Linked DNA regions of Homo sapiens: region 1 is linked to region 2. Evidence: fine-mapped expression QTL. A gene starts in region 2. The other region holds a variant in brackets. All regions are shown on one strand. Distances are from middle to middle.

Region 1 (5,369 bases), 880 kb after region 2:
TTCTTCAGACAGGGTCTTGCTCTGTCGCCTAGGCTGGAGTGCAGTGGCACAAATCACAGCTCACTGCAGCCTCAACTTCCTGGGCTCAAGCAATCCTCCCGCCTCAGCCTCCTGAGTAGCTGGGCCTACAGGCATGTGCCTCCATGCCTAGCTGATTGTGTTTCTTTTTTGTAGAGATGAAGTCTCCCTACATTGCTCAGGCTGATCTTGGACTCCTGGCCTCAAGCGATCCTCCCTCTTTGGCCTCCCAAAGTGCTGGGATTGTAGATGTGAGCCATTGTTCCCAGCCAGCATAATTATATCAAATAAAGCAAACCAGGAGGAAAAAGCAATTGCAATCCTTTTTTTTTTTTTTTTTTTTTTTTGAGACAGAGTCTCGCTCTGTCGCCCAGGCTGGAGTGCAGTGGCGTCATCTCGGCTCACTGCAACCTCCGCCTCCCAGGTTCAAGCAATTCTCCTGCCTCAGCCTCCTGAGTAGCTGGGATTACAGGCACCTGCCACCACCCCCGGCTAATTTTTGTATTTTTAGTAGAGACAGGGTTTCACCATGTTGGTCAGGCTGGTCTCGAACACCTGGCCTTGTGATCCACCTGCCTCGGCCTCCCAAAGTGCTGGGATTACAGGTGTGAGCCACTGCGCCGGGCCTTTCTTTTTTTTTTTTCTTTTTTTTTTTTTTTGAGACAGAGTCTCACTCTTTCACCCAGGCTGGAGTGCAGTGAAACAATCTTGGCTCACTGCAACCTCTGCGTCCTGTGTTCAAGCGATTCTTCTGCCTCAGCCTCCCAAGTAGCTGGGACTACCAGCACCCGCCACCACATCCAGCTAATTTTTTTGTATTTTTAGTAGAGACGGGGTTTCACCATCTTGGCCAGGCTGGTTTTGAACTCCTGACCTTGTGATCTACCAGCCTCAACTCCCAAAGTGCTGGGATTACAGACATGAGCCTCCACACCTGGCCAGCAATTGCAGTCTTAATGATCAAGGTGAATCCAAATGTATATGGGACAGGCTGGGCACGGTGGCTCACGCCTGTAATCCCAGAATTTTGGGAGGCCGAGACGGGCGGATCACAAGGTCAGGAGATCAAGACCATCCTGGCTAACAGAGTGAAACCCCGTCTCTACTAAAAATACAAAAAAAAAAAAAAAATTAATCCGGCATGAGGCGGAGCTTGCAGTGAGCTGAGATAGTGCCACTGCACTCTAGCCTGGGTGACAGAGCGAGACTCTGTCTCAAAAAAAAAAAAAAAGTATATGGGACAAAGTACACTCATTGTGACCAGAGGGAAAATGTACAGGAAAGATACGTTAGTCAGAAAACTTCATGTGCTGAAATACATTATATAAAATACAAATTAACATTTAAAAATCATGGTAAATGATTTAATAAACATTTTATGTATGTACTTATTTATTTTTTATTTTTTTTATTGAGACGGAGCAGGCTGGAGTTCAATGGCACGATCTTGGCTCACTGCAACCTCTGCCTCCCGGGTTCAAGCACTTCTCTACCTCAGCCTCCCGAGTAGCTGGGACTACAGGCGCCCACCACCACGCCTAGCTAATTTTTGCATTTTTAGTAGAGACGGGGTTTCACTATCTTGGCCAGGCTGGTCTTGAACTCCTGACCTTGTGTTCTGCGTCCCTTGGCCTCCCAAGGTGCTGGGATTACAGGCGTGAACCACCACGCCCGGCCTACTTACTTTTTGAGACAGAGCCTCTCTCTGTCACCCAGGCTGGAGTGCAATGGCGCCATCTCAGCTCACTGCAACTTCTGCCTCCTGGGTTCAAGCGATTCTCCTGCCTCACCCTCCTGAGTAGCTGGGATTACAGGCGTAAGCCACCACCCAGCTAATTTCTGTATTTTTAGTAGAGACTGGGTTTCGCCATGTTGACCAGGCTGGTCTTGAACTCCTGACCTCAGGTGATCTGCCCACCTTGGCCTCCCAAAGTGCTGGGATTACAGGCGTGAGCCACCGCACCCGGCCTGGGCATCTTCATTGATTTGTAATTCACATTCCATACAATTCACTCATTTAAGGTGTACAATTCAGTCGCATGTAGTACATTCAGAAAAGTGTGCAACTACCACCTCCAATTCTACAGCATTCTATCACCTCGAGAAGAACAAACCTTGTCCCCATCAGCCGTCACTCCCCGACACCCACACATCCCCTCCCTGTCTCTGGATGGGCCTGTCCCGGACAGTTCATAGAAATGGGATCACACACTGCGTGGCCTTCTGAGTTTGGCATCTGTGACTGAGCATGATGTCCTCCAGGTTCACGCTGTGGCCTGGCTCCGGTTCGTCATGGGATAATGTTCCAGTGTGGATGGACCATCCGTCCCCTCCTGCCGGGTGTTCAGGCCGTGCTGTCCTCTCGGCCACCAGGCATCAGGTGCCCATGTGCGCACACGGCCCGTGTCCCGCGTGGGTGTCTTGTGTGGCTGCTGTTTATGCTCTGTCTCTGCTGACCTTCTGGTGCCACCGCCTGGTGGCCGCCCCGGAGGCGTGGCCCACGTTCCTCGATATTTCTGGAGCTGTCTGCCCTTCTTTCCAAGCCAGAGAAGCAGATGGGAAACAAAAGCAGCTGCCCGCCCTCCTTGTCCCCGCCACAGGCCTACGCATCACTGGATGGGATCCTGCTCCCGGGAAGGCCGGCAGGAGAACGGCTCCGTCTGTCTGGCCTGGAAAGCAGCTCCCGCGCTGCCCCACCCGCCGCCAGGCCACTGCGTCCTCGTGGCTCTGCTGCCGGCCTCAGGGATCCCCCTGAGTTCTGACTGCAGGCAGAGGATGGACCTGCCTTTTCGGGCAGGTGACCCATGGCGCTCTCCTACTTTGTGGGAAAGAGGGACATGGAGTCAGGTGTGACTCCCTGGACCCCTCAGGCCAGGCCCCCAGCACTGATTCACCAAATAACTGGAAACTGCTTCTTGTCAGACACAGGCTGTGGCCCTGGTCCTGACCTCAGCGTGTCATCAACAGAAGGCTGACTGAGGCCCCTTGGCAAGGTCCCTGGTAGGTCGCGTCGCCAGGAGGTGGATGCCAGCCCCGGCTCACCACAGCCGCCCCTCCTGTTTCTCTCCACCTGCAGCCAGTGTCCTGGCGTCCTGGAAGCAACCTCCCCTGCCTGCTCCTCCCGCTTGGCCG[C/T]GGGGCCACAGGGCGCTATGACTGTGCAGGAGGCCTCAGAAGGACGGGCAATTTTTAAGATTCTATTTTTATTATTTTATTTTATTTTTGAGACGGAGTCTCGCTCCATCACCCAGGCTGGAGTGCAGTGGCGCGATCTCGGCTCACTGCAACCACCGCCTCCTGGGTTCAGGTGATTCTCCTGCCTCAGCCTCCTGAGTAGTTGGGATTACAGGCGCGTGCCACCACACCCGGCTAATATTTATATTTTTAGTAGAGATGGGGTTTGGCCACGTTGGCCATGTTGTGCCCAGCCAATGTCATCTGTTTCTTTTTACTTTTTAAAATATGTGGGTCTTGAACATTTACACACGTGTTGGTCAACATCCAGGTGAGAAAAGACGGAACACACAAGCTGTCAGGGAAATGCAAATCAAAACCATCGCCAAGATGATGTCACTCAGAAACGACAATAGCGGCCGGCACAGTGGCTCAGGCCTGTGATCCCAGTACTTTGGGAGGCTGAGATGGGCAGATCAGCTGAGGTCAGGAGTTCAAGACCAGCCTGACCAACAAGGTTAAACTCCGTCACTACTAAAAAATACAAAAATTACATGGGGATGGAGGCACTCTCCTGTAATCCCAGCTACTCAGGAGGCCGAGGTGGGAGGATTGCGTTAGCCCAGGAAGTCGAGGGTGCAGTGAGCCGAGATCAGGCCACTGAACTTAAGCTTGGGTAACAGAGCAAGACCCTGTCTCAAAAAAAATAAAATAAAGCTGGGTGCTGTGGCTCACACCTGTAATCTCAGCATTTTGGGAAGCTGAGACCAGTGGATCACTTGAGATCAGGAGTTCAAGAGCAGCCTGGCCAACATGGTGAAACCCCGTCTCTACTAAAAATACAAAAATTAGGGAGGTCGAGATGAGCAGATCACCTGAGATCAGGAGTTCGAGACCAGCCTTTCACATGGTGAAACGCTGTCTCTACTAAAAATTCAAAAATTAGCTGGACGTGGTGGCGGGCACCTGTAATCCCAGTTACTCGGGAGGCTGAGGCAAGAGAATTGCTTGAACCCGGGAGGTGGAGGTTGCAGTGAGCCAAGATCGCACCATTGCACTACAGCCTGGGTGACAAGAGTGAAACTTCGTCTCAAAAAATAAATAGGCCAGGCGCGGTGACTCACGCCTGTAATCCCAGCTACTCGGGAGGCTGAGGGAGGAGAATGGCGTGAACCCGGGAGACGGAGCTTGCAGTGAGCCGAGATCGCGCCACTGCACTCCGGCCTGGGCGAAAGAGCGAGACTCCGTCTCAAAAAAATAAAAAATAAAAACAAATAAATACAAAAATTAGCTGGGTGTGGCGGTGCACACCTGTAATCCTAGCTACTCAGGAGGCTGAGACAGTTGAATCACTTGAACCCAGGAGGCAGAGGTTGCAGTGAGCTGAGATTGCACCTCTGCGCTCCAGCCCAGGCGACAGAGTGAGTCTCCGTCTCCAAAACAAATTAGCTGGGTGTCTCCGTGCAGCTACTGGGGAAGCTGAAGCACAAGACTGCCTGAACCCGGAGAGAGATTGCAGTGAGCTGAGATCGTGCCACTCCACTCCAGCCTGGGCCACAGAGTGAGGCTGCGTGTGTATTTCTATAATGAAGAAAACTATTGCGGAAAAAAAAGTCAAAGAGAAATGCAGACCTTTAAAAGGTCTCTCCTGAGAGAAGCAGGAATGAGGAACTCGTAGGGTCCTGGGCTGGCCGCAGACAGGAGACCCCAAGGTCCCAGCAGGAGGGCGGTACATGGTGAAGATGGGATCCTTGGGGGAAGCCTGAGACACTCTGTGGTCGGCTGAATCACAGCCCCCAAAGATGCCCATGTCATTCCCGCGATCTGTGAATGTACCACTTCCCATGGCCAAAGGGGCCACCCCCATTCTTCTAGGCTAGCCTCGGCAGGGGTGCCGGGCCTCCAGCCTATCCATGCCCTGAGGGCTGCCACTGGGACACTCCAGACTTGGGACGTAGAGGGTGCCAGATGGGTGGGTTGGTGGGGTCACCTCCCCTGCTGTCTACACCGTGGGTCCTTCAATCTCGTTTCCTGCCCCTCACTTGTGATTCATTGATCAGGGCTACAGTGGAGAGTGAGGCCTGCCTGGGGTGAGGGGTTGTGGCTGTGGCCGCTGGGGGTCAGATTCTGACCACCTGCCTCTGTGCTTTCACTCAGTTGCACAGCGCCCGGGACCTGGA
Region 2 (5,369 bases):
ATGTTTTTCTTTCCTGTCTTTTGTTCCCACTGCTTCCTCTCTGACAGTTATTCCACTGTTTCCTATCACTTCCAATTTCTTTGTAGTTTCCTTGCCTCTTATCTTTGACACAATGTGAGTATCCTAAGCTTCATTAATATCCATTGATGAAGGCTGAGGCAAGCGGATCACTTGAGGTCAGGAGTTCCAGACCAACTTGGCCAGCATGGTGAAACCCCATCTCTACCAAAAAATACAAAAATCTGCCAGGCATGGTGGTGCAACATAAGACAAGCTTTGAGTAGCAAAAGATTGGAAACAAGTCCACTGTCTATTTAGAGAGACCTTGTTACATCAGCTTACATCATCTTACATCTGTAAGGAGTAAGGAAGTCACCTATTAAGATGAAGAGAGGTGGAGGATTTATTTTTTTCATTGAGCCACAAAAACAATTGTAATGCAATGTGTACACCATGGTACTTTTTAAAAATAATAAAGCGGGGGGAAACAAAACGTGTCGTTCAAATGGCGTTTTTTTGTTTGTTTTTGTTTTGAGATGGAGTCTCGCTCTGTCACCCAGGCGGAGTGCAGTGGTGCGATCTTGGGTCTGCAATCCCCGCCTCCCGGGCTCTAGTGATTCTCCTGCCTCAGCCTCCCAAGTAGTTGGGATTACAGGCATGTGCCACCACGCCCGGCTAATTTTTATATTTTTAGTAGAGACAAGGGTTTTGCCATGTTGGCCAGGCTGGTCTCGAACTCTTGACCTCAGGTGATCCACCTGCCTCAGCCTCCCAAAGTGCTGGGATTATAGGCGTGAGCCACTGCGCCCGGCCCTAGAGAATTTCTTAAAGTAAAAGGCTGTACTGTTCCTATGGTAATTGAATTCTTATTTTAACTCATTTGAGAAAATAATCATAGAAGTTTAAATAAATTTGAACTCGACGTGAAAATTCTGAATACTTTTATTCAGTTGAGCCGCAATTCCTAAAGCCTGGAACGCGACTGCTCATCTCCGAAAAGACTTTCCAGCTTGAGACAGAGTAGAAGTATAAACTCTATATCGCTTGCCATTTTACATACAAACATAATTGTCGTAATTCATGTTTTTACTGTGTCGACCTAAATAACAGGCTGTCTAAAAACGGTGGTAACAGTTCATTGCAGTGGGAATATGCGCGGCATAGCAAACTATGTGCTTATTCAGGGAGGTAAAGGAAGACAAAGGTTGTTTTTGGTTTTCATTTTTTTGAGACGGGGGTCTCTGTTGCCCAGGCTGGAGTACAATGGTGAGATCACAGCTCACTGCAGCCTCAATCCCCACGGGCTCGAGCGATCCTCCTGCTTCAGCCTATCAAGTCGTTGGGACCATAGGCGCACACTCCTTTATTCCCAGCTAATTTTTGTATTTTTTGTATATATGGGGTTTTGCCATGTTGCCCAGACTGGGACAAAGGTTTATAAAGGAAAAAAAAAATTTTAAATGAGGATTACATCATTTTTCAGAAATAATTATCCTTGTCTACAAAGATCAGTAACAAGGGTCACACCAGTCTGAGTGTCCCTGTAAAAGTATTTTTTGTTTAAGCCTGTGGTTTTTGTAGAGTCTTTTTCGTTATTAAGCATATAAATGTGAGACCTCTCTCTTCATGACCTTACGTGGTTCTGTTTGTGGGAGGGCTGCTTTTTTTTTTTTTGAGACTCAGTTTCGCTCTTGTTGCCCAGGCTGGAGTGCAGTGTCCTGATCTTGGCTCACTGCAATCTCCGCCTCCTGGGTTCAAGCGATTCTCCTGCCTCAGCCTCCGGAGTAGCTGGGATTACAGGCGCCCGCCACCGTGCCCAGCTAATTTTTGTATTTTTAGGAGAGAAGTGGTTTTCGCCATTTTGGTCAGGCTGGACTTGAACTCCTGACCTCTGATGATCCGCCGGTCTCCGCCTCTCACGGTGCTGGGATTACCGGCGTGAACCACCGCGCCCGGCCGAGAGTTTTAAGAACACAGGGAGCGCCTGGTGGGGTCCGGCCTCCTGGGGCCTCGTCGTCTGGTCTCCAGATCTCCAGGTCTCTGGACCCCAGGCGTCCGCGCCCACGCGGGACAGCACGGTGACGTCACGCACGCGGGTCCCGCCCCCACGCAGGACTCCGCCCCATGGGACTCCGTGCCCTTCCTCTCCTCCCCGCACGAGGGGCCGCTCCGAGGGGAAACTGAGTCTGGAGTTGCCGTGCAGTCAGGGAGGAGGACGCCGCGCCCTCCCTGGACTGGAGTGAGTTCTCCCAGATCCGCGGCTGCCCGGCTAGAGGGTCAGCCACGCGTGTTCTCGACGAGCCCGTCACTGAGGAGAGAATTATCCAATCAGGACAGGCAGGGGCGGGGCCTAGGGAACTGTCCAATCAGAGACGTTAATCCGAAGCGGAGCCCTGCCCAATCAAGGGCGCTAGGGGGACGGACTGGAGAATTCTCCAATCAGGGGTGCGGAGTCGACAGCACTGTCCAATCAGAGTCTCCACTTCCCGAGATCTGTCCAATCAGACCCCGAGGACGGTAAGCCGAGTTCCCCTCTGCCTTGCGCGCTTCCCCGCCTACCCCGAGCGGCTCAGGTGTCCTGTCGTGCTCACCTGCGCCGGTCGCTGGACCGCGGGGCGCTAACCCTGGAGAGCCCAGGAGCGGGCGGGACATGGTGAGTGCCGGGCGGGAGCCGAGCCCGGGCCCAGGGCGAGGTGGGGCGGCAGGAACCGGCTTCCGCCCGAGTTCGCAGCCGGAGAAAGCTGAGGGACGCGCGGGGCGGCGCACGACGAGCGCCTGGGCCCCGGGGACGTGGTCACAGCGGCCGAGGGGTAGGGCTGGGGGCAGTCTGGGGTGACAGCAAAAGCGGTCAGGGGCTCGAGGGGTAGTTTCTGGGGACAGTACAGGTCAGGAGTTTGGGGAGAGCTTGTGGGGACAGCAGAGGTGGTCAGGGGCTTGAGGCAATTTAAGTGGACAGTAGAGGTTTAAGGGGCACAGGGGCAGTTTGCGGGAACAGACACGGTCAGGGGCTCGGCGGCAGTTTGGGGGTTCAGTGGAAGGGAGTCAGGCTCAAGGGCAGATTAGGGGGCCAATAGCAGCGGTCAGGAACTCGGGGACAGTTTGAGGGGGCCGTAGAGGCGGTCATGGGTTTGAAGGGGCAGTTTTGGGGGACAGGTGATCAGGGGCTCGAAGGCAGTTTAGGGGGACAGTAGCTGCAGTCGGGAGTTTGGGGGCAGCTCGAGGGGACAGCAGAAGCAGTCAGGGGCTCAGGGGCACTTTAAGGGGGGCAGTAGAGGCGATCAGGGGCTTGAGGGAAGTTTGGGGGGACAGTAAAGGGAGTCGGGCTCGAGGGATGTGTTGGGGGACAGTAGAGGCAGTCAGGGGATCGGGGAGAGTGGGAGGAGAGGGCAGGAGCCGTCAGGGGCTTGGTGGTCAGTTTGGGAAGGTCTGCCAAGGAGGAGGTGGTGCCCTGTCCTGGAGCCTGTCAAATAATAAAATCCTGGGCCGGGCGCGGTGGCTCACGCCTGTAATCCCAGCACTTTGGGAGGCCGAGGCGGGCGGATCACCTGAGGTCAGGAGTTCCAGACCAGCCTGGACAACATGGCGAAATCCCGTCTCTACTAAAAATACAAAAATTAGCCCGGCGTGGTGGCGGGCGCCTGCAATCCCAGCTACCAGGGAGGCTGAGACAGGAGAATGGCGTGAACCTGGGAGGTGGAGCTTGCAGTGAGCCGACATGGCGCCGCTGCACTCCAGCCTGGCGACAGAGAAAGACTCCGTCTCAAAAACAAAAACCAAAAAAAAAAAAAAAAAAAAAAATCCTGGCTAGAGAAGGAGAGAGAAAAATAGGGATAAGCCCCAGCCTCCGAAACCTGCCAGGTCTCAAAATCAACCAGGAAAAGGCTTTACTTTCATACACAAGAAAAGGTTTGGAGGAACGTTTTAGGGGACAAGCAGAAAGGAGGTTGACAGTAAATGTACCTCCTCGTGGTCAGCTAGCTCAGGGGAGGTGACAGGGGACTCCACACTTACTGCTTGCTCAGACTCGGGGGGGCCAAAGTTCAGGGGCCTGCGGAGAGGACAGAAGGCTGAGTAAAGTTTGGGGAAGAAACGGGAGGCTGCGAACATGTGGTCAAGCTTGTGTAAACCCAAACGTAGTAAGGAAACTTTTATGAAAAAGGATTATTGCGAGGTATTGGGGGAGGGGGAGAAGGGGCTGTTGCAATAGGGAGAAGGGTTAGTTGGATTAGAGGCAGGAGAGTAATGCCAGAGGCTTGAGGTTCTATTGCAGTGGGGTGGGGGTATAAGCAACAGGGGCATGGGGACAGTTGATGATTGAGCTGCGGGACTAATGCTGTAGCCACAGGGAGACAGCTGCAGGGGGAGAGCTCTGTGACCGTCAAGTATGCAGGCATCTGAAGAGTTGGCTAGGCCTGGCGCGGTGGCTCATGCCTGTACTCCCAGCACTTTGGGAGGCTGAGGCAGGTGGATCACCTGAGGTCAGGAGTTCAAGACCAGCCTGGCCAACATGGTGAAATCCCATCTCTACTAAAAAATACAAAAATTAGCCGGGCGTGGTAGTGTGTGCCTGTAATCCCAGCTACTTGGAAGGCTGAGGCAGGGAGAATTGCTTGAACTCGGGAGGCAGAGGTTGCAGTGAGCCATGATCACACCACTGCACTCCAGCCTGGGCACACCTAACCTAGTGAATCATTTCTGATGACAAAGAATGGGATTTCGGAGGGTCTGAATCTGGCCTTGTCATCTGCGTGAATCTTATCTAAGTCGTATGGGAAGGGAGGGTCCTGGCTGTCCCAATTCCAGAGCACAGCAGGACGGGGTTTCACCTTTGCTGGTTTCCAGGAGCACAGAGCTGAAGTCAGTTCAACATTGTCACCTGACAGCTGCGAACAGCCTCGTCTGTGTCCAGCTCAGCATTGGTATTGTTCCTATTTCAGCCCCAGGTTTTAGTAAATGTAAAATAATGAGGCCGGGCATGGGGATGCGCACCTGTGGTCCCAGCCACTTGAGAGGCTGAGGGGGGAGAATCGCTTGAGCCCACGAGTTTGAGGCTGTACCACTCCACTCCAGCCTGGGCAACAGAGCTAGACCCTGTCTGGAAAAAAAAAAAAAAAAAAAAAGAGCCGGGCGCGGTGGCTCACACCTGTAATCCTAGCACTTTGAGTGGCTGAGGTGGGCGGATCACAAGGTCAGGAATTCAAGACCACCCTGATTGACATGGGGAAACCCCGTCTCTACTAAAAATATCAAAATTAGCCAGGTGTGATGGCAAGTGCCTGCAATCCCAGCTACTTGGGAGTCTGAGGCAGGAGAATCGCTTGAACCGGGGAGGCGGAGGTTGCAGCGAGCTGAGATTGTTTCACTGCACT

What was found.
Region 1: its variant is fine-mapped to the expression of ZNF77 in spinal cord (GTEx, PIP 0.93).

What each region holds. Positions count from the first base shown.
Region 1 is chr19:2,062,240-2,067,608 of GRCh38, reverse strand. No RefSeq gene overlaps it. Among named protein-coding and RNA genes, the nearest start is that of MKNK2, 14 kb to the right of the region's middle. RefSeq lists an enhancer at 4,757-5,369. The variant C/T (reference allele first, on the strand shown) is at 3,151.
Region 2 is chr19:2,942,122-2,947,490 of GRCh38, reverse strand. ZNF77 (zinc finger protein 77) reads left to right here and starts at 2,520. Exons shown (of 4, transcript NM_021217.3): 1 at 2,520-2,653. The coding sequence starts at 2,651. RefSeq lists an enhancer at 2,125-2,284 and silencers at 2,355-2,604, 2,745-2,824.